Linked DNA regions of Homo sapiens: all the other regions are linked to region 2. The links come from fine-mapping of genetic effects on gene expression. A gene starts in region 2. Each other region holds a variant in brackets. All regions are shown on one strand. Distances are from middle to middle.

Region 1 (10,505 bases), 40 kb after region 2:
TCTTCATTATGTGCATAAAAACTTCCAGGTATGCCAATTATAATAAGGCTGAAGTGGCTTTACTATTATTAGACAAAGTAGTCCTCAGAACAAGGAGTAATATTACCGGAGATAAAGAGATATTTTATACAGATAAAAGAGTCAGTTCAGTTCAAGAAGACATAAAAATCCTAAATATGTTGTATCTAATAACAGAACCTAAAATACATGAAGCAAAAATTACCAGAATTATAGCTAGAAATTTCAACACTTTTCTCTGAAGAATTAATAACACAAGAGGACAAAAATTCAGTAAGGATGGCCGGGCGCGGTGGCTCACGCCTGTAATCCCAGCACTTTGGGAGGCTGAGGCGGGCAGATCACAAGGTCAGGAGATCGAGACCATCCTGGCTAACACAGTGAAACCCCGTCTCTACTAAAAAAATACAAAAAATTAGCCGGGCAAGGTGGCGGGCGCCTGTAGTCCCAGCTACTCGAGAGGCTGAGGCAGGAGAATGGCGTGAACCCCCGGGGGCGGAGCCTACAGTGAACCGAGATCGCGCCACTGCACTCCAGCCTGGGAGACAGCGAGACTCCATCTCAAAAAAAAAAAAAAAAAAATTTTCAGTAAGTATAAAGAAGATTTGAGTAATGCTATAAACCTACTCATAGAATTAAATTAGAAATAGTAACAAAGATCTGGGGGATCCCCATACATTTTGAAACTAAATAGCACACTTCTAAATAGCCTATGATGAAAGAAGAAATTAAAAGAAAAATTAGAAAATATTTTGATCTGAACGATAATTAAAATACAATACATCATAATGGGAGCTGAGCATGGTGGCACACATGCTGTAATCCCAACACTTTGGGAGGCCAAGACGGTAGGATTGCTTTTTTTCCCTCAGGAAAGAAAAAAAAGGGATCCATGGTCAGTATGATACGACTAAAGCAGGGCTTAAAAGGAAATTTAAGGTTCTAGACGCTAAACAAGAAAAAGGTTTAAAATAAATTACCTAAGCTTCTAACTTAAGAAGATAGAAAAAGAAGAGCAAATTAAACTCAAGCAGAATGAAGGAAATAAAAAGAAGCAGAAATCTACAGAAAATGAACAAACAATGGAGAATAATTAATGACATCAAAAGTTGGTTCTTTGAAAAGATTAATAAAGTCAGTAAATCCTACCTAGACTAATCAAGAAAGTTAAATAAAAGGGGGGAAGGCAGAAATAAATTACCAATATTGGGAATGAAGAGGAGCTATCTTATAGTTCCTTCATATAGTAAAAGGTTAGTTAAGGAATGTTATGGTCAAACTTTATGTCAACAAATTCAACAACCTAGATGAAGTGAACATATTTCATCACAACTTATCAAAACTCACAGAAAAAAATATAAAAATCTGAATAGTCTTTTGTGTATTCTAGGCCCAGATGTCTTCACTTGTGAATTCTAGCAAACATTTAAGAAATAATGCCAATCTTACACAAACTTTCAGAAAACAGAAGAAAGGAAATTGCTTCCCAACATTTTATTAGACTAGCATATTCCAGAGACCCAAATTTGACATGGCATTAAAAGAAATGAAAATTACTGACTGATACTCCTCCTAAAAGTAGATGCAAAAACTCCTAAGGAAATAACATGAGGCCGGGCACGGTGGCTCATGCCTGTAATCCCAGCACTTTGGGAGGCTGAGGTGGGTAGATCATGAGGTCAGGAGATCAAGACTGTCCTGGCTAACAAGATTAAATCTCGTCTCCACTAAAAATACCAAAAATTAGCAGGGCGTGGTGGTGGGCACCTGTAGTCCCAGCTTCTCAGGAGGCTGAGGCAGGAGAATCGCTTGAACCCTCAGAGGCAGAGGTTGCAGTGAGCAGAGATCCAGCCACTGCACTCCAGCCTGGCAACAGAGCCAGACTCCATCTCAAAAAAAAAAAAAAAAAAAAAAAAACATGAGATAGAATCTGACAGCGTATAAGAAGGATAATACTCATGACCAAATGGGATTTATTTTAGAAATACAAAGTTAGTTTGCAATGTAATTTACCACATTATCAATATTCAACATCCAGTTTTTTTTCCACCTTCCACTATCTGACCAAGAATATTTTTTTCACAAACATCCAGTTTTAATAGAAATGTTCAACAAACAAGGATAACAGGAAACATCCTCAACCTTATGATAAAGGCATATAAAAAATCTTACTGCAAACAACATACTTAATAGTAAAAGAAGGACCAATTTCCTGTAAAGTCAAGAATAGGACAAGATGTCCATTCTAACCACTTCTTTCTAACGTTTTACTGGAGGTCCAGTGTGTTAAGATGAAGAAAATAAGTAAAATTGTTTTTAGTGGCAAGTGGCATTATTATCTATGTAAAAATTCTAAGAAATCTTCAAAAGAGAAACTTTAACTGATAAGTAACTTTAGCAAGGTTACAGAGTATAAGATCTGTACAAAAACTAATTGTATTTCCATATACTAGCAACAAACCATTTGAAAATACAAAACTTTTAAAATAAGAAGCTTAAAGATTCTGCTTAAAATAGCATTTAAAAATATAAAATACACAGCTATAAACTTAACAACATATGTGGAAGCCCTCTACCTTGAAAGAGATGGAAAACCTAAGTAAATGAAGGGATTATATCATGTTCATGGATATGAAGACTTAATATTGTTAAGGTGTACGTCCTCCTCAATTTGATCTTTAAATTCAATCCCAGTGAAAATCCTAGCAGGTTTTTATATAATTGAAAATATGATTCTAAAGTTTTTATAAGATTGCAAAGGAGAAAACCAAAACAATCCATATAAAGAACAGTGTTGGAGGACTTACATGACCTGATTTCCAGACTAACCATGAAGCCACATTAATCAAGACAGTCTGTTATTGGTATAGCCATAAGCAAATAGATAAATTGGAACAGAAATAGTCCACCCAAATGTATGTTTATGCAGTTAATTCATCTTCAATTAAGGCACCAAAGCATTCAGTGAGTAAAGAAAGTGCTTTTCAAAAGTTGGTGCTAGAACAACTGGCTATATTTGTGAATAAAAGTGAATCTTGACCCATACCTCACACCATACACAAAACTTAATTCAAAATATGTCATAGATCTAAATGTATTAATAAAAGCTAAAACCATAAAACTTCTTGAAGCAAACTTAGGAGAAAATTTCAAGATTCTGAAATCACTAACCATAAAGGGAAAGAATTGAGAAAATAGATTTCACCAAAATCAAAAAAATTTCCATTTATCAAAAGATGCTATTTAAAAAAGAGTAGATAAGCCACAGTGTAGGAGAAAAAAAATATATGCAGAACATACACATGCATGAGACTGGTATCCAGAGTATATAACCAGCTCCTCCAACTCAAGTTAAAGACACAACCCAATTTTTTAAATGGCAAAATATTTTTGAAGGGCCATTTTCACAAGGCAAGATATACAAATAATAAACAATGGAAAAGTGCTCAACATCATTAGGCATCAGGTAAATGTAAATTAAAAGCATGATAAGATACCACTATACCATAATCCCAGTTGAATGGAAAAAACTTAAAAGGCAATACCCAATATTGGCAAGAATGTGGAGCAATTGGAATTTTTATACACTGCTAATGGGAGTATAAGATGGATAAAAGCACTTTTCATATCTATCTGGCAGTTTCTTATAAAGTAAATTATACACCTAACCCTAGGACCCAGCAATTCCATTCTTAGATATTTACCAAGAGGAGGGGAAAGTATGTTTAAAAAATGTTTTGTACAAGACTATTCATAATAACTAAACTGGAAACCGCCCAATACCAGTCAGCAGGACAATAGATAAGTAAATTGTGGTACAGATTAAGCATCCCTAATCTGAAAATCAGAAATTTGAAATGCTCCAAAATTAGAAACTTTGAGCATCAATCTGATGCCGCAAATAGAAAATCTGCACCTGGTGTCATGGGATGGGTTGCAGTCAAAATGCAGGTGCACAACACAGCTTATTTGCATCGCAAGGGATAGAAGACCCTCCCAGCCCTTTTCAGCTGCAATATACCTTTTCTGCACACACCCAGATTCCCCCACCCAAGCACCCCCACAAAGGGTAATAAAATGGCACATGTATAGGCCAGATGCGCCAATGGCAGGTTCCCCACAATGCCCCAAATGGGCCCCAGGCCTATGTGCATTACTCACTGTATTACTTCGCTTATTCTTTAGTCTGGTGTGAAGATAGTGTTGACAGTGTCAAAAAGGACTGCAGCTACCCCTATGGGTGTTGGTGTCAAGAAAAATAGGAAGCATTTATGTTTACCTGTAGCATAGAAAGTCAAGTTGTTGGAGAAACTAGACAGCGGTGTGTGAACTGTCTTTTAGAAGAGTATGCTATTAGAATGTCCATATATGACCTGAAGAAACAGAAGGGTAAGCTGTTGACATTCTGTGCTGGAAGTGATGAGCAGAAGTTAATGAAAAAGAGAATACTGCATAAAGCTACAAATGAAGATATCAATCATGTATTGAAGTACTGCATTTGTCAGCATTGCTGTGAATACATGCCATTTAATGGCAGGCTGATAATGAAACAAACAGATCTATCACAGTGAACTGGAAATTGAAGAGAACTGTGAACATTTAACAGACTGGTTGCAAAAGTTTAAAAAAAGACAGTGCTCTCTTCAGCAGTACATATACTTAAAAAAAAAACTGGAATGATACAAAGAAGATTAGCATGGCCCTTGCGCAAGCATGATATACAAATTCATGAAGCATTCCATGCTAAAAAATAGTAATGATAAAAACAAAAAAGTAGGCCGGGCACAGTGGCTCATGCCTGTAATCCCAGCACTTTGGGAGGCCAAGTTGGGTAGATCACTTGAGGTCAGGAGTTCAAGACCAGCCTGGCCAACATGGTGAAACCCTGACCCTACTAAAAATACAAAAATTAGCCAGGTTGGTGGTTCATGCCTGTAGTCCCAGCTACTCAGGAGGCTGAGGCATGGGAATTGCTTGAACCCAGGAGGTGGAGGTTGCAGTGAGCCGAGATTGTGCCACTGCACTCCAGTGTGGTGACAGAGTGATACTCCATCAAATAAATAAATAAATAAATTTTAAAAGTCACAGCATTGAATTTTTAAATGTTTGGGATGATAAAGCACCTGCTTATCATGAAGCTAGAGAAATTCAATGACACGTTTGCCAGGGTCTTTGCTAGTGATGTTGGAACAAGTCTGTAATGCTGATGAAACATCACTGTTCGGGCATTATTGCCCCAGAAAGACACTGACTGCAGCTGATGAAACAGCCCTTCCAAGAATTAAGGATGCCAAAGACCAAATAACTGTGCTGAGATATACTTA[C/G]GCAGCAGGCATGCATAAGTGTAAACTTGCTGTTATAAGCAAAAGCTTGCGTTCTCACTGTTTTCAAGGAGTGAATTTCATACCAATCCATTATTATGCTAATAAAAAGGCATGGATCACCAGGGACATCTTTTCAGATTGGTTTCACAAACATTTTGTACCAGCAGCTTGTGCTTACTGCAGGGAAGCTGACTGGATGATGACTGCAAGATTTTGTTATATCTTAACAACTGTTGTGCTCATCCTCCAGCTGAAATTCTCATCAAAAATAATGTTTATGGCTCACACCTGTAATCTCAACACTTTGGGAGGATTGCCTGAGCCCAGGAGTTCAAGCCCACCCTGGGCAACACAGCAAGACCCAACCTCTACCAAAAAAAAAAAAAATGAACTGGATGTTGTGGTGTATACCTGTATTCCCAGCTACCTGGGAGACTGAAGTGAGAGGATCACTTGAGCCCAGGAGGTTGAGGCTGCAGTGAGCCATGATTGCCTCACTGCGCTCCAGCATGGGTGTCAGAGCAAATCCCTGTCTCAAAACAAAAACAAAAATGTTTATGCCTTTTTGCCATCTACTTTCTCCCAAATATGACTTTATTAATTCAGCCATGTCAGCAGTCATATCCAAAAAATTATTGCCAAGAGCAGTGTCAAGAAGCTTTTGTCCTGTGTTTTATTCTAGTAGTTTTATAGTTTAAGGTCTTAATGTTTAGGTTTTTAATCCATTTTGAGTTGATTTTGTTTATGGTAAGATAAAAGTCCAGTTTTATTCTTCTGCATATGGATATTCAGTTGTCCCAACACCATTTATTGAAGAGGCAATCCTTGCCCTGTTGTGTGTTCTTGGCAACCTTGTCAAAAATCAGATGGCTATAAATTATGGATTTATTTCTGGGCTTTCTATTTTGTTCCATTGGTCCATATGTCTTATTGAAAATACTTTTATGTATGTTTACCTTTTCCATTTTCTCTTTTGTAATTTGCTTGTTTATATTCTCTCCCCATTTCTCTTTCTTTTTTTCTTTTGATTTTTAGCTACTTTATATATTAGAAATAGTTTTCCCCAGTATCACATCTGTCTCTTGATTTGTATATGGCATCTTCTGTCATATACATTATCTTTTACTTAAAAAATGTCTTTCCCCTTAAGGCTGTTCGTTTTTTTTCTGTCTTCCTTAAATAAAACTTTATCACACTAAATTATCAATACCACCTAGATTTTCTTCTGATACATTTGTTATTTTGTTATTGTGATACTTGTTTTTATATATGGTAGGAAGTTCAGAAGTGTATGTGCTTTTTTTTCAGCTGGATAGCTAGTTAGGACATTGTCATTATTTAAATACCTAAAGGACTGTTTTGGCATAGATTTGGGTCTATTATTGAACTCTATTCTGTTCTTCTGGTCTGTGGGTCTCTTGTAGTGTCAGTACTAGTGTTTTGATTACAGTAGCTTTATCAAAAGTGATAGAATCTGGTAAGACAAGTCCCTGGTTACTTTTTACTGTCCATACATTTATTCTTCCATATTAACACTGGTATCTTATTCTTTTTTTAAAAAAAAGATATTTTAAATCATTGATGTCCTGACTGGAATTACTTTAAATGTATAAGTTAATTTGGAAAGATGGACATCACTATACTACTACAGAATTTGTAAAGTAAGAGATTAATGCTCTGTGAATTATGATATAGTATTATAATAGATTCACACTTAAAATTTGATTTTCTGCTGCCTTGCTTATTTGCACTTTAGTGGCAACTGTTGGGGTAATAGCTTCAGAGAACTTTGCAGTGGTAGCAGTATTCTAGGGCCCTTTGAAACAATAAATAGCATATTTTTCATGCAATAAAATGGAAGAGTTTCATTAGTTAAGATTTTGGTTTTTTGTTTTTCAAGAGCACAAATGGTTATTCTGTATATGGAGGAAAAAGACTTATTCTGTTTGTTGAGATTATGGAATTTTTATGCTTGTAACCCTTCTCTTCAATCCTTATATTCAGAAGCGATTATTGGAAGCCATGGAGACATGTAACCACTCCCTCAAAAAGGAAGAGAGGAAAAGAAACCAACATAGTGAGTGCCTAATGTGCTGGTATGATAGAGACACAGAGTTTATCTATCCTTCTCCATGGCCAGAAAAGTTCCCTGCCATAGAACGATGTTGTACAAGGTAATGTTACTTGGTAATTTTTCAACAACAAAAGAGCGCTCCTAACACAAGGGTGCGAGAAGTGGTGAAGGGGGAGCTTTGAATATCTGTTTGGAGAATTAGCAAATAGTTTATGACAGTTATAGTCAATTGATAATCAATGAGTTACATCTAACTTGCAGAGGATCTAAGGATCTTTCACACTTGTGTCTATAATTCTCTACTTTGGTCAGATTCTTTGTTTCTCTTTCCTTCTTCTATTAAAAGTGTTTGAATTTTTTCTCTCTAATGTATATCCCTGCATTTTGTCTCCCTCGAATGGATATGTGAATTTTTGTTTCCATTGTCAGTGTTTCTGCTCCCAGCATTATTTGATACGCTGTGATATTGATTATACCCCCCAGCCACCCAACTAGAAAGAAGGAAATAAGAAATAAAGAGCTCCATTTTTTTCTCTTCATGAAAATATCTTCCTTTTTTTTCTCTTCTCTCACCTTCCCTGCAAATAATCTACCCAGATGGCAATTGAGTTGCAAATAAAGTAAACATCTCTCAGTTACAACTTTTCCTTTTGTTAAAGGAAAGAGAAAGATAAAACAGGCATTATAAAATGTTTATTTTCCATCCTGGGTTTTGGAACATGGAGGATATAGAGATTTGTGTTATGTGTCATATTTTATCTTAAAATTTATATATATAGTTTTGTTTTAGATTAATGGGGAAAATCTCAACTTAGTAATCTACAGGCATGATTGTGTCTAGACCAGTAACAATAGAGAGGCTGGTTATCTGCTTGTGTTTTCTTTGTCTGGAACTAATTGTCATTCTCTTCTTTAAAAGCAAGGATGACTCTTACGAAATATACAAGGGAAAGTTAAAAAACTGTAATTGTTTGTAATGTATTAATTTTAAATTAAATGCCTTGATTTATTTTCTAGGTATAAAATAATATCCTTAGATGCTTGGCGTGTAGACATAAACAAAAACAAAATAACCAGAATTGACCAGAAAGCATTATATTTCTGTGGATTTCCTACTCTGAAACACATCAGACACAAAGTCAGTGGCTATTTAGTTCAGAATTTTTTCACTTTATTAAGTGTGAAGTGATTATGGAGAAAGAATTAAAATTAAATTATTTGAATTCTTTTAAAGTTTTTTTTGAAGAAAAGTGGTGTTCAAGTATTCCAGCAAAGCAGTCGTGGAGAAAACATGATGTTGGAAATCTTAGTGGATGCAGAATCAGATGAACTTGTAAGTATTTTATTTATCATTCATTTATTAGATGCCTATAATGTATTAAACTGTAGCTGCTGGGATGTTTACCAGGGAGGTATTATATGTTGTAACTCTAGAAATTTGGAGCCTAAATAAGGATGAAGCAAAGAAACATTCATACAAATTAGATAATAGTTCAAGAACCTGTATCACTGTGACACAATGAATATACAAATTTTCTAGAAATTTTAAAAAGGAGAAGAGCTATGTAAACCAAAAGTTAAGTATAGACTTGTAAATGAGAATAGGCTTGAGCTGAGGACTGAAAAACAGGTTAGGACACAGAAAAGGAGGGGAAAGGCATTCTAGTCAAAAGAAATATCATGAGCCAGTCATTTCAGTCAAAAATGTCATATATTATTGTTTTTAACCTTTTTGTGTATCTGAACTATTTCTTAACACTTAGTCTTTTCTTTAGAATAAATGTGATATATTTGAGGAGAAGGAATAAATAAGCCTTATTGAAGCAGAGGATTTGTGTTTGGAAATAGTAGAAGATAAGTTTGAAAAATCAGATTGAGGCCAGATTATGTCGAACCTTGAGTACCAGGCTGAGTTTGGACTTATTTTCCCATGACCATTATTTTGGAATTGATATTTTCATAAAGATTAATTTGGTGGCAGTATAATAAACTAAATTGCACAAAAGAGAAATCAAAGAAAGCGGGAAAGCTTGCGAGTGTAGCATCAGGTGATAGAGACATAAACTTCAGAAGTAGCAATAGATCTAGATGAACAAGATGAAATAAAACTGATAGGTTTCATTATTTGGTCAAATACAGGGGGTGAAAAGAGAAACTATTAATAGTAAATGTGACTGAGATATCCAGGCTAATTAACTAAAAAAAAAATTGTAATTTACTGGACTAGAAAAGTTAAAACAGGGGAGTTGATAGTTTAGGGGGATGAAATGATAAATAATGATGGAATTTTAAGGTAACACTAGGATGTTTAACCGGAACTGCCTTGCCAGCCTTTCTTAACCAGTATTCCACAAGATGTATAAGCCCTAATGCCCTAAGTCATTCATTGTAAGCAATAAATTAACTTATCTTCTGTGCATTTAGAACAGTAGGAGTTATGTACCATCTTTGAGAGAACAGAGAAAGTAGACGTATTTTGTGTTCTCTGATTCAGATGAAAAACCTGTTTAGAAAGTCTGTTTATGGCTGGGCATGGTGGCTTACGTCTGTAATCCCAGCACTTTTGGAGGCTGAGGCGGGCATATCATCTGAGGTCAGGAGTTCAAGACAAGTCTGGCCAACATGGTGAAACCCCATCTCTACTGAAAATACAAAAATTAGCCAAACTTGGTGGTGGGTGCCTGTAATCCCAGCTACTCGGGAGGCTGAGGCAGGAGAATTGCTTGAACCCAGGAGGTGGACGTGGCAGTGAGCCAAAATCGCGCCACTGCACTCCAGCCTGGGTGACAAGAGCGAAACTCCATCTCAAAAAAGGAAAAAAAAAAGAAAGGCTATTTATATACAGTTAAATACCTGGAGCTAGAGCTTGGAGAGAGAGAAGGATATTCAAGTTGTCAACAGAGAATTGATGACTTTGAGGTTCATTTCCTTGAAGACAAGGTGCATTGAGTGTTCATGGTCTCAGCATAAAGAAATGCCCACAGTTATAAATGGTGGAGAGGGAGCCAGTAGAAACAGAGAGGTTAGGAAGAGTGATTCCAAAGTTAAATAGTACCACAGAAGCATGGAGCAGAGGATGTAAGCTGCAT
Region 2 (10,505 bases):
GAGCAGATGGTCTCTGGGACATGTTCCTTTTCGTTAAGTGATAGATATACTTGGCTTGTACTGGATACCTTTTACTGAGGGATTCCAATATCTGACCAGTTCTTGAACCTGTTAAAACTTCTGCTCGCTCCATTTCTGTTCTAAACAGCTGAAAGAGCTCTAGCAGGATCACACTCAAGCTATATACATATCTAACTGGACAAAGCCAGCCCTGGTCTCTACAAATAGTTTTTGTTTTTTTTTAATTAGCTGGGCTCAGTGGCACACTCCTGTAGTCCCAGCTACTTGGGAGGCTGAGGTGGGAGGATCACTTGACCCCAGGAGTTGGAGGCTGCTGTGAGCTATGATGACACCACTGCACTCCAGCCTGGGCAACAGAGTGAGACCCTTGGCATCATACTCAGATCCTTCCAACTGCTGGGATGAAGCATACAGACAAGTGCCCACTCTGGATATAGGTGTTGGTGTTCTCTTTCTGTTTCTATGGGTCCAGTCTGTGTTCTTTTGTAAGATGTCTGGGCAAGCCAGACCAAAGTCTCCTATTTTTACTTGCTGATCAGGGCCATGAAGAAAAATATTTCTAGGCTTCAGATCTCTGTTTACAATACCCATGTTATGTATGTAAAACACACCTTCCACTAAATCTTGAAAATTTTTTGTTGCAACACTGGCCATAAGGACAGGCAAACTTGCCCACACACTCTTGGCCCTGTTTGTTTCTCTCAGCTAGCCAGTCCCACAGCTGGAGCTTGCACACCTGCATCTGGATGTGCAGCATCAGGTGGTACTGCACCTCGATCCCCAACAAGTTGAAGTTTTCTTTGGAAGATTCCTCAGTGGATGTGAAATTCTCCTCTAGGAGGGAATTACACCTGAGCAGCAGGGGCTGTTTCACAATTGACCAGGTAGACAAACCAGCCAGGCCATTTTCCTGGAGCTCCAGGGATGATTCATATTCACTGGTGTCTCTTAAGACGGAATTGATGGTGTAGTTCACAGCTTGTTGTTCTGATTTTGAGTGTCAGATTCTGCAAAGGGTTTTTCTTTTCTGAGGTGAGCTCCGCGAAGATAATGGGTGAGCTGCTATTTTCACCATTTTTAACACCGTATTGGTATCTGTCTGCTTGGTCGGAGAACACTTCCAGAAATGGCAACTGAACGGAAGCTCTGTCTGCTTGTGGTTGGACCACTTGAACATGTTCTGTCCACGCAGTGTGATAACGAATGATATTAGGGTGCTGAAGACCTGCCAGCACCTTCATTCCCCGTAGTTCTTTCATGTAATGTGTTTTTGTTGCACCCTTAATCAGGATTTTTTAAATTGCATAATACTGACCATCTAATTTATTCCTGACCTTGTATACTCTTCCATATCCACCTTTTCCTAAGATGGCAAGTTCTTCAAATTCATTTAAGTAACGTGAAGTTTGTGCTTCAAAGGGTACTTCCCTTGATCTGATTTTCTGGATATGAGAAATAGCCTCACAAGGATCCTGATGAACTCTCTCTTTAGTGGACCTCATTAAGTGAGTAATAGCTCTGTGGTGATGTAGTCTCAATGAGCTAAACTTGTCACAAGTGAAAGAAGACAGCAGCCCCATTTTGATAAAGGTCTGGCAAAGTAACTTAAACACTGTCTTGAATGAACTGGGTTTGGTTCACGCACATGGCTCAAGTGCTTCACCAAAGAAATAAGCGGCAGCTGGTTTGCAACTGCAAAAGGGAAAGTTGGCTGTTGTAGGGGTTATTTTAATACCTGGAGTTCTGCTGGAACATAAGTCATATTTGGAGTCCAGGCTCTTGGCGGAAAAGTCGATGGCAGATGGCACAGCAACAGTCTCCACCCCGTGGCCCTCCTCTTTGTGCTCGTGGGCTGCAGCGCAGCCCACCAGCCCACCCAGCACCACCTCTGAGAATTATTCTTCTAATAACGTTATTCTTCCTTTTGCATTCAGATATGCTTAAGAAATTGTACAGTTCCAAGTAGCTCACTTAGAACACCCATTTGCATGTACTAACATAATGTAAATATTAGGCAGTACAGCATTGTTATTTGAATATTCATTGAAATGTTTAAGTCCTAAACACTTCCAAAGCAGATTTAAAAAATTATTTTTCTAGAATTGTAATGTGTAAATAATTCCCTGGTATTTCACGTAGTCCAGAAACATGTCCAAGCAGTTGATGTTGAATCAATCTTGCGAGCCTCCAAATCAGTATCACAAGCTAACTGTATTTGTTTAATTTCTTCTTTTCCTGTATTTGCTCTTACAAAAGGGGTATTGGTCAGTAAAATGGTATTAACATTTATTAAATGTCAAAATATAAAGAAAGGTAGTAATTCCAAATTATTAACATCTGTTTTTGGTTTTATGTTTCTTCTTTTTAGGCCAAGACCCATGTTCTTGACATTGAGCAGCGACTACAAGGTGTAATCAAGACTCGAAATAGAGTGACAGGACTGCCGTTATCTATTGAAGGACATGTGCATTACCTTATACAGGAAGCTACTGATGAAAACTTACTATGCCAGATGTATCTTGGTTGGACTCCATATATGTGAAATGAAATTATGTAAAAGAATATGTTAATAATCTAAAAGTAATGCATTTGGTATGAATCTGTGGTTGTATCTGTTCAATTCTAAAGTACAACATAAATTTACGTTCTCAGCAACTGTTATTTCTCTCTGATCATTAATTATATGTAAAATAATATACATTCAGTTATTAAGAAATAAACTGCTTTCTTAATACATACTGTGCATTATAATTGGAGAAATAGAATATCATGTGTTCTTATGGTCAAAAACTATATTTGCAAGAAACAAGCAAGTCTAATTTCATTTTACAACTTCTATTGATTTCCTTTTAAAAGTCCTAGCTATTGTAAGGATTCACTTGAAGAACAAAATTATATGGAATAAATACTGTGGGCAAGGCGTTGTGCCAGACTTGTGCATAGAGCTACCCTCTCCTGCCCTCCAGGAAGTGACAGTCTAGTAAGAGAGATATATAAATATAAATAGCATATCATTAAGTTCACTTAATAAAACTTTGTTTTAAAGTGTGATAGGGAAAAAATATAAGCCAAGAAGCGTGAATGTGAAAACGAAATAAACATTCTGTAATTTGTGTGATGCTGCCATACTGCAGTCCCAGAATGCAGAATCCAGTGGTCATGAAAGACAGCGATACTTAACATTTCCTGAGATCTTAAAATCCAAAAAGTATTAAATGTTTAAGGTTTTTCTGTAAGTTTTCATCCAGAAGACTTAAATACAAAGTAACGGGTTAATACATTCAAATAAGTGGAAAACTCTTACATTTAAAACTGATAATTTCACTTAAGTTGATAGAACTCTCCTTTGCTGTGCGGTTGAAAGTGTGATGGGGAAAAATATGATAAACCCGGATGCAAGAATGTCAAAACTAAACATTAAATGATTTCGTATCCAAGGTCTTATGTTAACAGTTGCGGGGGGCGGGTACATGGGAAATTTTTTTGAACAATTTGGAAAAGAACGTTTTTAAACGTATGTATTAAGAAACGTAAGTTTAAATTCCTCAGAGAAAAAAAATTATTGACAAAACAACAAACTAAGCCAAGTAAATCACCAGATCTTTCGAAATCTGAATGAAAAATACTGAGATTAGCAACCCTAGGAGACAAGCGGAACAAAAATCAGTGTTCGATACCCTTCCCACACCTTCGTACGGTTTTCATGCCACTTCCAAATCCACTTAGAAAGCACAACTCTATCATGGGGCATTTTCGCCCCTAAGTTGCAACACACCAGCAAACCTCCGCAGATTCCCTGACCGCCACTGGACAGTACCGCGGCCCCGGCCGCGCGAGGCCCGGAGGGCTAAGCCCCGCCCCTCGGACGGCCTCGGATCCTGCCGCTCTAGGCCCGCCGGGCGCTCTCTATGGTCGGCCGGGCGGTGTGTTGTCATCCGCGGAGCGACGACCGGAGGCTGCGGCGGAGCCCCGGCGGGGCGTTTGGTTTCGGTTTGGCCCTGACTGGGATTAGTGTTGACGATCGAAATGGGAGTCCCCAAGTTTTACAGATGGATCTCAGAGCGGTATCCCTGTCTCAGCGAAGTGGTGAAAGAGCATCAGGTGGGTGAGCGAGGGGCAACGGCTCAGAAAGCCGAGGACCCGGGGCTCCGCGGCCCTCTCCACCTTAGAGCTGGGGCTTTCGAGCCACCTCTTTCCCCTCGTCGTCTGGACGATTAGTGGCATTAGGGAGGGGGACGGAAGGTTTGAGGACGCCCGGATGAGCCGAAAGGGGCTAAGGACGCAGGTTGCCTGTGTGTGGACAGAGCCGCTGGGTTCACGGCTTCTCTGACAGCTCTTGCTTCTGCTGGTCCTTCCGCGACTCCGAAATGAAGTCCTGGGAAAGAACGCTTTTACTGTTCTCCGGTTTCCTCCCGGGGAGCTGCAAGTTGCCTTTTTCCTTACAGAGGCTGCGAAGCTGGAGTGGGTGTCCTCGTAGGTTCCCCCATCCCACCCAGAGCGGCAGACCCACTTACAGACGATAACAGCCGCTTCCGCACGCAGTCACCTTGTTTACTTTCCCTGATCTAGAGCGCGGCCCACCCGGCCCCCGGAGCCTAGACTTTCCGACGTGGCTGATGGTCATATTGGTGATGCCTTTTGTTACTTTCTGTTATTTCAAAAGCAGCACCAATCCCCTGTTGCCAAAACAAAAAACTCTTGGGCCAGCTGGGGAGTGGGGCGTAGGACCTTTTATTTGGAGGCCTCACTGTGTGACAGAGGGGGTTGGGAAACGAATTGATAGAACATTAATACTACTAATAATATTTGGCATGTACTGACCCCAGGACAACGTTAATGTGTAGATTCCGAAAACGTAGTTTATATATTGGAACTGTGGAAAGAGAGGAGAAAGCAGTCGTCTATTAGGTAAACTAGACTTTGGGTGATACTTTGGTGTTTGTCACATTTAATGAATTTGATCTCTTTTCTGATGCTTTACAGAAAAAAAGCTTGAAATTTGTGTAGCTGATTGAATCAGTTGTGATGGGTAGTATTGTAAATAGCCTATTAAATTATGGTTTAATCGGCATTTACGAACATGAAGGTAGTTTACTTCTGGAAAGGAGTTTTTGTTGCTGGATTCCAATCAGATTTGGTAGATGAGAAATAGACTACAAAAAGTTTCCAAGGTTAGCTTATCTTGAATTTATTTGAAACATAGATTGAGTTAGGTTTAGAGAGGTATTTTTTTCCCCCGGGGAGGGCTAAAAAGGAAACCAGTACATTGCAGAAATGGAGACAACCAACTTTGGCTTTTCTTGCATCCTTCAGTCAGTACCTGCTATATATCAGTCACTTTATCTCTAAAGTGCAAAAATAATGCGATTGTTATTCGTGATGATTTAATACATAATTTGTTCAGTAATATTTTTATTCTGTAGTCTGTGGCACAGAATTTGGTTTGGTGAAAATATCTTAGATTCTCTCCATCCTGAGGAATTTTGTTACTGAAGAATGAAAATCTCTTTAATGCAGTTTTATGACATGGACACTAAGGATAGGTTTTGTGAAAGCTTTATATAGAAACTGGGAGGAGAATTATTTTTAAATTTCACTGTAAATAAATTTTAAAATTTGGTTCATTGTTGTGATACCTTTCAAAAATGTTTGATTAAAAAGAGACCAAAGGTTATCAGCTTCTCTGTTAAGTAGAACTTAAAGATGGTAATGCCTAAATAAGTCACAGGCATTCAAAAGCTAGTCCTGGGCGGGAAGGATAGGGAGAAGAAGTAAGTTACGGGAAGTCAGTGGTGTGGCCTCAGTAGCATAGGTTTTCAGTTTCTCTGAATCATCTTGTAAAAACAGAAAGAGAAACTAGAAACCAAAGTTTAAAATCCATAAAACAATTACAACAAACCATGTGACATGCTATCCCCATGAAACTCAAAACATAACTAGGTGAGGCAAACTATCAATAGTCTCTAGACACCGTTGATATTGCCATCTGTGCAAAAGCGAGAAGGAAGCAATGGGGCAACATCTGATGAACCTTAGAACAGAATTCCAGAATAGCCAGCGGTATCCACTAAAAGACTGTGCTGGCCAATTAGATAGCGGTAGCTGAAACAGAGGAGTTTTATTCACTCCATTATTGACTGGGTGAAGGTCTACCATAAGAAAGACCAAACAGGCAGGAGTAGTCTACCTCCTGTGAACACTCAAAACTGACTTGCCAAGGTGCCATTCTAGACCAGAGCCCTAAGGAAAAGGGAGTGGAATAAAGTCTTACGGAAATGTTATGCTGGAAGTGGAATAAAATTTTATGAAAGGGACAATAGAGACAAGAAGAGAAGGAGATAGACCATATAAAAGTGAGGCAAAGTCATAGAATCAAGAAATCTTAGAAAACAAACCACAAAGCAAACCACTGTATTTTTTAACACTACCCAGAAACAGCTTTGTGAACTTATATTCCCTGAACCTCTACTCATTCTAAAAGTTCAAGAAAATTAAATTCACATAAAAATGAGCTACAGAAAGGTATTGAGATCAAATTACATACAAAGTTATTATACGAGAAAAAGGGACAGAGTATCTCTCCAGACATAAAAACTTGCAATGAAAAAAATGCACACAAAATAGACCAAAATTATAACCAAAACTATTATCTATTTCACAATGAGTTAAAAGGCATTAAGAAAATGAGGTAAGACATGAAAGAACAACGTGTATCAATTATGAAAATGTGAGAATGAGATGACAGAGAAAGTTAGAAGTAAATGAAAAAAAAATGCAGAGCTGAGCCTCAAATAGAAGCAAGACGAGCAAATGATACCATTTGAGAAAACAATCGGCAGTGGAAAGATGAAATTTTAAAAAATAAAATAGATTTAAAAGATTCAAGAAAAAGTAACGATAAGAAAGATAGGCAAAGAAGACAAATAGTAGAGGTGCCTGAAAAAGAAAAAACCAAAGCAGCATAACAGAATGGGTACTCAGTAAATATTTTTTGAGTGAATTAATTTATTAGCTATAGCATATAGCATATAGAAATGCATATTAAAATAGACATGGTATATTAGTATGTTGTAAAACAGTATTTTTTAAAAAAGTGAAATGAAGCCTGGGATTATTATGATTATTTTTTTTTATGAAACATAGTGTATATACTTATGGGGTTCATGAGATGTTTTCGTACAGGCATGCAGTGTGTAATAATCATATCATGGAGAATGGAGTATCCATCCACTCAAGTATTTATCCTTTGTGTTAAAATCTAATTACACTCTTTTAGTTGTTTTTAAATTATTGCCTATCGTCACCCTGTTGTGCTATCACATAGTAGGTCTTATTCATTCTTTTTTTTTATTTTTTATTTTGGATACAAGGTCGCGCTCTGTCACCCCGGCTGGAGTACAGTGACGCAATCTCGGCTCACTGCAACCCCTGCCTCCCCGGTTCAAGCAAGTCTTGTGCCTTAGCCACCCAAGTAGCTGGGATTAGGCGTGTGCCACTACGCCTAGCTAATTTTTGTGTTCTTAGTAGACATGGAGTTTTGCCGTGTTGGCCAGGCTCTTCTCCAACTCCTGGTGGCCTCAAGTGATCCGCCCACCTCAGCCTCCCAAAGTCCTTGGATTATAGGCATGAGCCACCGTGCCTGGCCTGTGTTTTTTTGTTCTGTTTGTTTTAATTTAAATCTTTTTAAAAATAGAGATGGGTTTTTGCCATGTTGCCCACTCTGATCTTGAACTACTGGGCTCAAGTGATCTGCCCGCCTCGGCCTCCCAAAGTGCTGGGATTACAGGCGTGAGCCCCCGTGCCCAGACTAGGTCTTATTCGTTCTTTCAGTTTTTCTTTTATACCCATTAACCTTTCCCACCTCTCCCCTGACTCCCCGACTACCCTTCCCAGCCTCTAGGAACCATCTTTCTATTTTCTATGTCCATGAGTTCTATTGTTTTGATTTTTAGATTCCATAAATAAGTGAGAACATGCAATGTTTGTCTTTCTGTGCTGGACTTATTTTACTTGACATAATGAACTGCATTTCCACCCATGTGGTTGCAGATGGCAGGATCTCATTCCTTCTTGTGGCTGAATAGTACTCCATTGTGTATATACCACATTTTCTTTATCCATTCATTTGTTGATGGACGCTTAGGTTGCTTCCAAATCTTGGCTATTGTGAACAGTACAGCAACAAACAAAGGAGTGCAGATATCTGCGATATACTGATTTCCTCTCTTTGGGTTATATTAACACAGATAGCAGTGGGGTTGCTGGGATCATATGGTAGCTCTATTTTTAGTTTGTTTTTGTTTGTTTGTTTGTTTTTGCAGTTGCAAGATTTAATAGAGTGACATAGAGTGAAAACAGAGCTCCCATACAAAAGGAGGGGACCCGAAGGGGGTTGCTGTTGCCGGCTTGAATGCGTGGGTTTACATCCCGATCCTTGTCCCTCCCACTGTGCTGTCAGGCAGTAGATGATTGGCTATTTCTTTACCTCCTGTTTTGCCTAATTAGCATTTTAGTGAGCTCTCTGATTGATCAGGTGTGAGCTAAGTTGCAAGCCCCGTGTTTAAAGGTGGATGCGGTCACCTTCCCAGCTAGGCTTAGGGATTCTTAGTCGGCCTAGGAAATGTAGCTAGTCCTGTCTCTCAGTCCCCACTCTCAGCAGGAAAACCTAAGTGCTGTTGGGGAGGTTGGCCGATGACTGCTCTAACTGCTTCCTGCTGAATTGGCACGTAGTAGGGGTGGTGCAGTTGAGATTTCCTCGGGAGGGGTGCCTTTGATGTCATTAACATCAGCGCATGGGCTAACAGGCCGGTCCAGGGGTCCGCGGTAGATCTTAGTCATGGACTGCATCTGGGGCTCCATTTGAAGAACGATTTGTAGTTTTACAGCTTCGATTCTGGAAGAGACAAACTTAACAAGGAGGTTAAAGATACAGGGATTGGGCCGGGCGCGGTGGCTCACGCCTGTAATCCCAGCACTTTGGGAGGCCGAGGCGGGTGGATCACGAGGTCAGGAGATTGAGACCATCCTGGCTAACACGGTGAAACCCCGTCTCTACTAAAAATACAAAAAATTAGCCGGGCGTCGTGTTGGGCGCCCGTAGTCCCAGCTACTCAGGAGGCTGAGGCAGGAGAATGGCGTGAACCCAGGAGGCGGAGCTTGCAGTGAGGTGAGATCGCGCCACTGCACTCCAGCCTGGGCAACAGAGCGAGATTCCATCTCAAAATAAAAATAAAAATAAAAAGATACAGGGATTGAAATGTATGGCCTGCAGTGCAGATTATTTCTTTGGCACACTTTACAGGCCCTAACTATCTGCTTGATAGTTTTGAAAAGGCCTGGTCCAGTAAATAATAATTTGGCCATCTGATGGGTGCTATCAATGCCTAAGTGAAAGGTTTGGTGAAGGGTTTTAAGTAATTTCCATTGGTTAGCTGCAGGCAAAAGTATTTTTCTTTCTTCGGTGGCTAGCCATCCTGAGGGGAGGAAACTATGTCCTCGTGAGCTTCCCCATTCTATTTCTTCTTCTGAGTACTGGGGCTTGGTTTCCTGGAGGGGATTACCCCATACTAGGGGTCCTTCTATAAGCATTTCTAATGGAGGGTCCTGCCTTGCGGCTCTTTTGGCTTCAATATCCTCTTGGCGGTTCCTTTCTATTTCCCGTTCCTTTCTGATGACCCCGGCAGTGTAAGACTGCCACCTCTTTAGGTTTCTGTACAGCCAATAATAATTTCCTAATGGCTTCCTGATGTTTGATAGGTGTTCCCTCCAAAGTTAGGAATTCCCTTTCTCTCCATATTGCTGCATGGGCATGGAGGACTAGGTAAGCATATTTAGAGTCTGTATATATATTTACCCTTTTTCCTTCTCCTAATTCTAGTGCCCAAGTGAGGGCTATTAGTTTTGCCAGCTGAGCACTAGTTCCTGGAATGAGGGGATTATTTTCAAGTATTCCATTATCACTGACCACTGCATACCCTGCTTTTCAAAGTCCTTTTTCTATGAAGGACTTTTTGTATACGAATTCATTGTATGTATATGAATACGAATGAATTGTATACGAATTGTATGCGAATTCAGTATACAAATTGAGGTCAGGATCCGTCAAGGGAACCTCTGAAAGGTCCCCTCGAGCGGCTTAGGTTTGAGCAATTACTTGTTGACAGTTATGTTCTATCTTTTCTTCATTGTCTGGAAGAAATGTGGCTGGGTTAAGAGTTGCACAAGTGCACAGTCGCAACACTGGCCCTTCAAGTAATAGAGCCTGATATTTAAGTAAATGGTTGTCTGAGAGCCACAAGTCTCCTTTAGCAGTGAGTATACCATTCACATCATGAGGTGTCCACACAGTAAGATCTCTTCCCTGTATTATTTTAACTGCTTCAGATACTAAGACTGCAACTGCAGCCACTACCTATAAACAATGAAGCCAACCCTTTGCCACTACATCAGTTTTCTTACTCAGGTATGCCACGGTTGCAAGCTCG
Region 3 (10,505 bases), 160 kb after region 2:
CAGTTGAGCGGCTTTGAGTGAGATTCTTAATCCTGAGTTCTAGTTTGATTGCACTGTGGTCTGAGAGATAGTTTGTTATAATTTCTGTTCTTTTACATTTGCTGAGGAGAGCTTTACTTCCAAGTATGTGGTCAATTTTGGAATAGGTGTGGTGTGGTGCTGAAAAAAATGTATATTCCGTTGATTTGGGGTGGAGAGCTCTGTAGATGTCTATTAGGTCTGCTTGGTGCAGAGCTGAGTTCAATTCCTGGGTATCCTTGTTGACTTTCTGTCTCGTTGATCTGTCTAATGTTGACAGTGGGGTGTTAGAGTCTCCCATTATTAATGTGTGGGAGTCTAAGTCTCTTTGTAGGTCACTCAGGACTTGCTTTGTGAATCTGGGTGCTCCTGTATTGGGTGCATATATATTTAGGATAGTTAGCTCTTCTTGTTGAATTGATCCCTTTACCATTATGTAATGGCCTTCTTTGTCTCTTTTGATCTTTGTTGGTTTAAAGTCTGTTTTATCAGAGACTAGGATTGCAACCCCTGCCTTTTTTTGTTTTCCATTTGCTTGGTAGATCTTCCTCCATCCTTTTATTTTGAGCCTATGTGTGTCTCTGTATGTGAGATGGGTTTCCTGAATATAGCACACTGATGGGTCTTGACTCTTTATCCAATTTGCCAGTCTGTGTCTTTTAATTGGAGCATTTAGTCCATTTACATTTAAATTTAATATTGTTATGTGTGAATTTGATCCTGTCATTATGATGTTAGCTGGTTATTTTGCTCGTTAGTTGATGCAGTTTCTTCCTAGTCTTGAGGGTCTTTACATTTTGGCATGATTTTGCAGTGGCTGGTGCCGGTCGTTCCTTTCCATGTTTAGCGCTTCCTTCAGGAGCTCTTTTAGGACAGGCCTGGTGGTGACAAAATCTCTCAGCATTTGCTTGTCTGTAAAGTATTTTATTTCTCCTTCACTTATGAAGCTTAGTTTGGCTGGATATGAAATTCTGGGTTGAAAATTCTTTTCTTTAAGAATGTTGAATATTGGCCCCCACTCTCTTCTGGCTTGTAGAGTTTCTGCCGAGAGCTCTGCTGTTAGTCTGATGGGCTTCCCTTTGAGGGTAACCCAACCTTTCTCTCTGGCTGCCCTTAACATTTTTTCCTTCATTTCAACTTTGGTGAATCTGACAATTATGTGTCTTGGAGTTGCTCTTCTCGAGGAGTATCTTTGTGGCGTTCTCTGTATTTCCTGAATCTGAATGTTGGCCTGCCTTGCTAGATTGGGGAAGTTCTCCTGGATAATATCCTGCAGAGTGTTTTCCAACTTGGTTCCATTCTCCCTGTCACTTTCAGGTACACCAATCAGACGTAGATTTGGTCTTTTCACATAGTCCCATATTTCTTGGAGGCTTTGTTCATTTCTTTTTATTCTTTTTTCTCTAAACTTCCCTTCTCGCTTCATTTCATTCATTTCATCTTCCATCGCTGATACCCTTTCTTCCAGTTGATCGCATCGGCTCCTGAGGCTTCTGCATTCTTCACGTAGTTCTCAAGCCGTGGTTTTCAGCTCCATCAGCTCCTTTAAGCACTTCTCTGTATTGGTTATTCTAGTTATACATTCTTCTAAATTTTTTTCTAAGTTTTCAACTTCTTTGCCTTTGGTTTGAATTTCCTCCCATAGCTCAGAGTAATTTGATCATCTGAAGCCTTCTTCTCTCAGCTCGTCAAAGTCATTCTCCATCCAGCTTTGTTCCGTTGCTGGTGAGGAACTGCGTTCCTTTGGAGGAGGAGAGGTGCTCTGCTTTTTAGAGTTTCCAATTTTTCTGCTCTGTTTTTTCCCCATCTTTGTGGTTTTATCTACTTTTGGTCTTTGATGATGGTGATGTACATATGGGTTTTTGGTGTGGATGTCCTTTCTGTTTGTTAGTTTTCCTTCTAACAGACAGGACCTTCAGCTGCAGGTCTGTTGGAGTACTTGGCCGTGTGTGGTGTCAGTCTGCCCCTGCTGTGGGGTGCCTCCCAGTTAGGCTGCTTGGGGGTCAGGAGTCAGGGACCCACTTGAGGAGGCAGTCTGCCCATTCTCAGATCTCCAGCTGTGTGCTGGGAGAACCACTGCTCTCTTCAAAGCTGTCAGACAGGGACATTTAAGTCTACAGAGGTTACTGCTTTTTGTTTGTCTGTGCCCTGCCCCCAGAGGTGGAGCCTACAGAGGCAGGCAGGCCTCCTTGAGCTGTGGAGGGCTCCACACAGTTGGAGCTTCCCGGCTGCTTTATTTACCTAAGCAAGCCTAGGCAATGGCGGGCGCCCCTCCCCCAGCCTCGCTGCCACCTGGCAGTTTGATCTCAGACTGCTGTGCTAGCAATCAGCGAGACTCCGTGGGCGTAGGACCCTCCAAGCCATGTGCGGGATATAATCTCCTGGTGAGCCGTTTTTTAAGCCCATCGGAAAAGCGCAGTATTCGGGTGGGAGTGACCCGATTTTCCAGGTGCCATCTTTCACCACTTACTTTGACTAGGAAAGGGAACTCCCTGACCCCTTGTGCTTCCTGAGTGAGACAATGCCTCACCCTGCTTCGGCTCACGCACGGTGTGCCCGCCCACTGACCTGCGCCCACTGTCTGGCACTCCCTAGTGAGATAAACCCGGTACCTCAGATGGAAATGCAGAAATCACCTGTCTTCTGCGTCGCTCACGCTGGGAGTTGTAGACCGGAGCTGTTCCTATTCGGCCATCTTGGCTCCTCCACCAGGGCTTTATAACTTCTATTGTTCACAAGCATTGTCATATCATTAATTATGTCTCCATGAACCCAAAACTAAGTTTTGTTCTCAAGGCTCAGTAATAACAACTACTACTACTTATGGGATATCTACTAGGTAGGTACCAATCAATTTATATAATACTTTCAATCCTCCAAACACTAATAATATTATAATAATATAAGATATGGGCTGGCTGGGCATGGTGGCTCATGCCTGTAATCCCAGCACTTTGGGAGGCCGAGGCGGGTGGATCACGAGGTCAGGAGATCGAGACCATCCTGGCTAACATGGTGAAACCCCGTCTCTACTAAAAATACAAAAATTACCTGGGTGTGGTGATGGGCACCTCTAGTCCCAGCTACTCGGGAGGCTGAGGCAGGAAAATGGCATGAACCTGGGAGGCGGAGCTTGCAGTGAGCTGAGATCGCGCCTCTGCACTCCAGCCTGGGCAACAGAGTGAGATTCCGTGTCTAAAAAAAAAGGTACAGGCTGGGTACAGTGAGTGGCTCACACCTGTAATTCTAGCATTTTGGAAGGCCAAGGTGGGTGGATCACTTGAGTCCAGGAATTTGAGACCAGCCTGGCCAACATAGTGAGACCCCCATCTCTACAAATAAAAAAAATGAGCCGGCCATGGTGGTGCACACTTGTAGTCCCAGCTACTCAGGAGGCTAAGGCAGAGAATTGCTCGAGCCCAAGGAGTCAAGGCTTCAGTGAGCCATGATCACACCACAGCACTCAGCTTGAGTAACAAAATGAGACCCTGTCTCAAAAAATTAAAATAAAATAAATATATCTCATTTCACAAATGAGAACACTAAGACACAAAACTGTTAACTTGCCCAAAGATAGTTGCTGAACTGAGATTCAAAATAGGCCTGTTGAATCCCAAAACACATGTTCTTTCTTTTCCTTTTTGAATTAATTTTTAATTATACAAGTAACACATGGCTACATCTCCTGGTGAAGCAGCATCACTGTCTAGGGTAAATATCCAGGGTTCGTCATCTCATGCTAAGAAAATTAAGGGCACAGACGTGGGTGGATTAAGGAATGGAAAGTTTAATAGGCAGAAGAAAGGAGAGAGGAGAGCAGCTCCTTGCAAGAGAGAGGTGTCCGAAAAAGAGAAAAGCAGTGGAGTGCAGCAGATTTTATAGGCAGGCTTGAGGAAGCAGTGTCTGATTTATGTAGGGCCCATGGACTGGCTCAATCAGGTTTGACATTTACGTAGCACTCAAGGAAGGCTTGTCACCCCACCCTAATCTTATTATGCAAAAGGGCTTTCCACTTGGCCAGCACCATCTTGTCTGCTCCTTACTGTACATGTGGCTGACAAAGAGAAGGGAAGATGAAGCCACCATTTTGAACATCCCTAGTCCCATGTAGTATTTTTCTATTGGCACAACTGCTGGCATTCACTTGTGCAAGCTTCCAGCTTGCTTGTTCATGTCTGCAACTCAATTTTACAGACTGTTATTTTTTAGAAAAGAAAATGATTTTGGGGCTGCTTTTTATTAAAATGAAAACCTTACCAAGGACTCCCGTGCCCACAATATCTGCGTAAGTAATTTGTTCTTAACTCCTGTATCATTCTGCCCCTCAGGAGTGGTAAGCCTAACTGCTGTTAGGATGTGTTGGACGACAACTCTTTCTGGCTACTTCCTGCTGAAAAGTGGTGTCATGTGGGGAACAGCAGCTAGGGCTCTTCCTGGGGTTGGTCTAAGGTTCCACAGAAGAAAGGCATGTCCATATGTGTTTCTATGTGCAGCAGCATTGGAGGTTGATTGCAGTCACCTATTCTGATGGATTGTGATACTGGTTTGCCTCCACCAGATGCTGCTGAAACATTAATATAAAAGTAACATTCTTTTAGGATAAGCGACATTGGATTTGGGTGACTAGAATAACTTTAGTGTTAACCTGAAATCTTTCCTGCAATTATTGATCCCTTCATGACTTTCACAGACCATTTATGACATGCTTAGACTTTCTGGCTTGTCCTAAACATCCCTCTTTTTAAACAACCAGTAATTCTCTTTAGGACAAGAATTTAATATACAAGATCCCTTCTTATGTAAAGTTTATTTTCTTTATAACCCTCTTTGCATAGCTAGGGTGTGACACATTACCGAAGCCAGTAAAAAATCTTGGCAGACTCAGTGATAGTAAAACCTTCATGTTTACTTCTTGATCGGTAGCTATTATCCCTGCTATAAGTATAATAATTAAGCAAAATGCTACAACAATGGAAACTCTCTGTCCAATATTTCAGTTAGAAGGTGCTATCATATATGGCTTTACTGCAAATAGTAGAGTGAGTATTGCAATTCCTGCAAGGGTGGCATAGTGGATTATTTCCATCTAAAATTTTACTTTCCAAGATACACAATTTCCCTTTGGAGGTTTATGAAGTTCCTTGGCTTTATTTTCCCAAACAAAGAAACCTCTGGGTTATGGACACCCTACTAACTTTCATTACCTGGCAGGATTTTCAGGATAATTGCCCAGAACTAGCATATTGATCCAGATTTTTACATTACCCATCCTTTTGTGTTTCTTCTGAGCTGCAGGAGATCAT[G/T]ATTTGATTCACAGGAATAAGCAAGTTTAGTCTAAAATGTAGCAAAAAAAACTTAAAAACAATGAGACTAGAATTTAATGACAAATGTATAAGTTTTGGAATACAATTTTTCTCCTTGTTGTCCTCATTTTGGTAAAAACAAATTATGATAGGACCATGTTATTCATAGAATAAATTTTAGTCTTATACTTGACCTGATTATTTGCATAAAGTCCAGCAAGAATAACTATTTCTACATGGGCCTTTTGGGTTGAGTTTGATGGAACTCTATTCCCCAGGGAAACTGAAATAAGAATTTTTAAAGCCCAGCCCAGCCATGGGATTGTATTCTCAAATGCCTGTGAATTGGGTGATCCTCTCAAGATAAACTTGGAGCTCCTGGACCTGTTAGAAAGTGACATTCTTTACTGACAACAGGTCAGGAACGCTGTATGGGGACTGTGTAGACAAGGAATGAGGCCAGTCTTCCCCAAGGGGCTTTTATTTGCTCTGCATGTCAAGCTCGATTCCTTAAAGGGAAACACATGCTTCCAGTCAAAGCACTGGTAAAATAAGCACTTTTTTTTCCAATGGTGTCCTGTTGCAAAAGAAAAATGGATTCTTATTGCACTGATGCCAACAACCATGTTGCCATAAGTTAATAATACTCACAGATAGTTTCCAAATTCCAGAGGAACCAGACAGAGAGAAATAAACATGCTCCAAATTTTATGAACAGGAGTATACCTTACTCATGAGGTATTATTATTATTACAGGCTGTAACTAGTTCAAAATAAGTTTCCTTGACTCTGAAAAACAAAACAAGGATCAGCAATATTCCAAGCAAAAGTTGAAAAGGTTGCTTTAGCTTTCTGAGTTCACTTGGTTAACTCTTGGTTTTGTTGATATTTGTGAACATTTTAGCTTTTCATGAGTTCTGTACTTTTTTTTATATTCCAATGTTATAATCTTCAAAGCTATTAGAAACCTGCATTTGAGAGCACCTGTTAACATCTTATAGCTTGACTATAAATCATCTTTTCAGAAGGAACAAAGCAAGACAATTGTCTGCAAGTGAAAAAATTTCCAGGGTACAGTTAAAAATGCAACTGATAAAGAAGTTTGGTTATCTCTATGGTTTACAATGACTTAACATAACAACCTTAATTATGATGATAGCATATATTCAGACATTAGAATTTTAGAAATCCCCAATTTTGGAACATATATTAGTATTATTCACCAAAATATAACTTAAAGATTGAACATCATTTTGGCAATCCCATCTAACTAAACATATCAAATAATTCTGTTCACCACCTCTCTGGATGCTTCAGGGGCCCTCTGAACCATCCAGAAAGCTAGACATCAGGAAAGGCAATTTTGAAATTTGAAGTTTGATTTTGGGGAGGCTGTTAAATATTAGAGGTTTAAAACACTTGATTTTATGAAGTAGAATTCCAGATTACAATAAATTATTTATTTTTCCAAAATGATGACTCAAAAGGCAAAAACCTTTTATTAGCCTTTACTATTACATGAAAATCCTATTCAAAGCAAAATTTTACCCTTGCATTAGTTTATTGTTAACCCCAATTTTTTGATGAAACCTCATAGACAATTCCATTTCATCTTAACCAATTTGACCATGAGGTGAAATCTTTACAAACCTTTTATAACCCTTTTGCTAAAGGGCAGATTAGCGTTTTAAGACAACCTTTATTTCAATGCTTAATTTATGAAATGACCATATAATTCCCTTTTGAATTTAGTTAATGTTTACACATGGAATTTTTGCAAGATTAATTTTTACAACCTTTCCATAACTTGCTTAAACCTTCAGCTTTCTTATCTAACTTAAGACAATCTTTTATGACTAGGAAAAATGTACATTTCCATGCCTTCTCATAATCTTTTACTAGAAAATACATTCTACTGTTTTTACACATCTTGCATATAAATTTATTTTTAGTAGTTTAAATTACATGTTATTGAAGTGGCTATGTTGTCTGGGGTAAATACCCAGTGTTCATCATCTCATGCTAGGAAAATTTAAGACACAGACACACATGAGGAGTTTAGGAGCAGAGGTTTCATAAGCAGAAGAAAGAGAAAGGAAAACAACTCTTCTAGTGAGAGAGAGGGGGCTTCTGAGAGCAAAAAAAAAAAACTGGCCAGCAATGAATGTGCTGGATTTTATAGTCAGGCTTGAGAAGGCAGTGTCTGATTTACATAGGGCTCACAGATTGGTTCAATCAGGTGTGACGTTTACATAGCTCTCAGGGAAGGCTCCTCATCCCACCCTAATCTTATTATGCAAATGAACTCTCCCCTGGGCCGGTGCCATCTTGTCTGCTCCTTACTGTACAGTGGCTGACAGATAAGGGAAGATGGAGCCACCATTTTGAACATGTCTAGTCCCAGCTAGTTCTTTCCTACCTGCATTCATTCCTGCAAGCTCCCAGTTGCTTGTCTATGTCTGAGGCCCAACTTTACAGGCTGCTCTTTGTTAGAAAATGATTTGGGCTGCTTTTCATTAAAAGGAAAACCTTACCAAGCACTTCCATACCCTCACTATCTGCCTAAGTAATTTCTTCTTTGTCAGGCCTCTGAGCCCAAGCTAAGCCATCATATCCCCAGTGACCTGCACATATACATCCAGATGGCCTGAAGCAACTGAAGATCCACAGAAGTGAAAATAGCTTAACTGATGACATTCCACCATTGTGATTTGTTTCTGCCCCACACTAACTGATCAATGTTGTTTATAATCTCCCCCACCCTTAAGAATTTTCTTTGTAATTCTCCTCACCCTTGAGAAGTTACTTTGTGAGATCCACCCCCTGTCCCCAAAACATCGCTCTTAACTCCACCGCCTATCCCAAAACCTATAAGAACTAATGATAATCCCACCACCCTTGCTGACTCGTTTTTTGGACTCAGCCCGCCTGCACCCAGGTGAAATAAACAGCCTTGTTGCTCACACAAAGCCTGTTTGGTGGTCTCTTCACACGGACACGTGAAACATTCTTAACTCCTATATCATTATGGTGGTAACTTTGGGTAATTTTTAACTTTACTGTGAAACCTGGTAGGTTGTTTTGATTATGTATTAGGCATAGATAAAGTCTGACTTTTTCCAGCATACTTAGGGGTGTGGTTAATTTCGTATGTCCCCAGGCCTTACCAAGTTGTAAAGCAGGTAGTTTACAACCTTGGAACATTTAGCAAACCTAGTATCTGACTTACATGATTTAGACCACCTATTTACATGTTTATGACCCTTGTATTTTACCAATAATTCTTAAGACTATTTTTATTTCTTAAAGATTAAAGTCATATGAACTAAAAAGCATTACAGCTTTTTATTTTTTCTTTAAAAATACTTGATTTAAGCACTCATTTTTCTTTAAGCCAATCAATTAGAGCTCTTTTTATAGACATTACACACAACACATATATACACAGACAGACAGAAGATTCAGCACTTCTGAGATTTTTCATTTGTAAGTTTATTAATTGGATTACCTGCTTCAGGGTAAAGCCCTTGGAGGAACAGGAAGGAATGCATTTTTAGGGCCTAATAAGCAGGCACAGCTGAAGGCAAAGACAGATCCCCAAAATTAAGGGTGCCATTTTATACTGGATCTTGGATCCCCAGAATGAGGGAGATGCTACAGGAGGAGGCAGTGCAGTGCTTCTACCTTGCATATCATTGCAAGGCAACCCAAAGCCAATTGGCTTGTTTTGTAATTAGCCCATCCTCCATGGAGTCTCATCTCTTAATGGGGAGTGGGGATGTTTCCATATCTTCCAGGTGGACAAGAGCATGCTTCTCTGATTCAAATGTGCAAAGAGTTAAGTATCCCTCCATGAACACTATTAGCCATCCCTTAAAGTATATTTCCTACCTAGTTATTACACACCAAAGCTCTCTCATACTGCAAGGTAACTTTTGATACCCCCAAAACTTAAAACCATCAGATAACACAATGCAAAACAGAACAGAGCCTTTGATTTTGAGAGGGATCCATCCACTTTCAATTCCTGGGGTTACATGAGGAAAATAGGGGGTTTTTCCCCCAAAATGGAATCTATGGTGCCTCCTCTGTTTTTCCCAAGGAGTCCCAGGCTACCAGAAGTTATCTTAGGGCCTCTCATGTGTGCATTAAGAGTGGAAAGACAAAAAAATGGAGAAAAATAATTCAGTCGACTGAGAAGAAAAAACCTTTTTCCAGAAAAATAAGATCCAAGAAGAGAAAAACGTGAATGCCTTTTAAATATACCTATAACTTGGCTATCCATTTTTAATTAAGCTGAGCACTATTTAAGAAAATCCTTTTAAATCTTTTGTTACTCGACTTCAGCCATGCAAAACAATTAAGATTTTCAGCTTTGGAACTTTACAAAAAGTAACCCCACAGGTGAAACCAACAAGCCTTAATTAGGTTATAACTTAACCTCCAGTGTATGAGGTATTTTCAAAGGGGTGGTAAGCAGCTTTTGAAACCATCATTGCAAAACTGTGACTGAGACAGTGAAAGAGATCCAACCCAAGTAACTCCATCTTGCTCCAGCCTGCAAGCTGTCCTTGCCCATCCCTCGGCATGGGCCGAACCAACTTTGGGAGAACCCTGGTTTGCAGTTTATAGTTTAAAACAAAGATGATAACAGCCCCTTCCTAAGGTATACTTCCCTCTTGCCTGGGGACCAGACAAGAAACTAGCCACAAGATTAGAAACCATGGCCTAGAAGTCATGCAGCTGGAGGTTACAAGATTTTGACCCTCCCTAAGCTGCTCTCAAGATCAGCACTTAAGATATTTTGTAAACCCTGGCCTTGATGGATCATCTGGCACCACCCAGATTGATAAACTGGCTTATCTGATTTTGTGGCCGCCACCCAGGAACTGACTTAGCACAAGAAGACAGCCACCATTGTAAAATGGAGACTAAAAGTATTGCCACGTGGTTACAGGTCATGTTTCCAAGGACACGAAACAAGATGGAGGCCTGTAGCCAAGTTTGTTACTGATCATTTTGTTAGGCTGGCTTGAACAGCAGTCTTATGCGGTCCTGGCCCTGCATCCTAAGGTACCCTTTCTTTTGACAAAACCATGCAGAAAGACACACAAAACACAACAGATTGGCTACAGCTTAAGACCAACCGCACAAATCCTTTTTCACTAATTAAAACTTTATATA

What was found. PIP is the estimated chance that this variant, and not a neighbour inherited with it, causes the effect.
Region 1: its variant is the best candidate, but not a certain one, in a credible set for the expression of XRN1 in whole blood (TOPMed, PIP 0.78).
Region 3: its variant is the best candidate, but not a certain one, in a credible set for the expression of XRN1 in blood mononuclear cells (TOPMed, PIP 0.56).

What each region holds. Positions count from the first base shown.
Region 1 is chr3:142,401,918-142,412,422 of GRCh38, reverse strand. XRN1 (5'-3' exoribonuclease 1) reads left to right here. Exons shown (of 41, transcript NM_001282857.2): 16 at 7,347-7,516; 17 at 8,434-8,554; 18 at 8,651-8,749. It also overlaps the pseudogene RNU6-1294P. Among named protein-coding and RNA genes, the nearest start is that of XRN1, 41 kb to the left of the region's middle. The variant C/G (reference allele first, on the strand shown) is at 5,343.
Region 2 is chr3:142,441,487-142,451,991 of GRCh38, reverse strand. XRN1 (5'-3' exoribonuclease 1) reads left to right here and starts at 3,955. Exons shown (of 41, transcript NM_001282857.2): 1 at 3,955-4,122. The coding sequence starts at 4,048. It overlaps ATR (ATR checkpoint kinase), which reads left to right. Exons shown (of 47, transcript NM_001184.4): 47 at 2,390-2,757. The coding sequence ends at 2,563. It also overlaps the pseudogene EIF2AK1P1. RefSeq lists enhancers at 3,958-4,237, 5,770-6,129 and a silencer at 7,705-7,911.
Region 3 is chr3:142,282,427-142,292,931 of GRCh38, reverse strand. No RefSeq gene overlaps it. Among named protein-coding and RNA genes, the nearest start is that of GK5, 62 kb to the right of the region's middle. RefSeq lists an enhancer at 7,431-7,725. The variant G/T (reference allele first, on the strand shown) is at 5,322.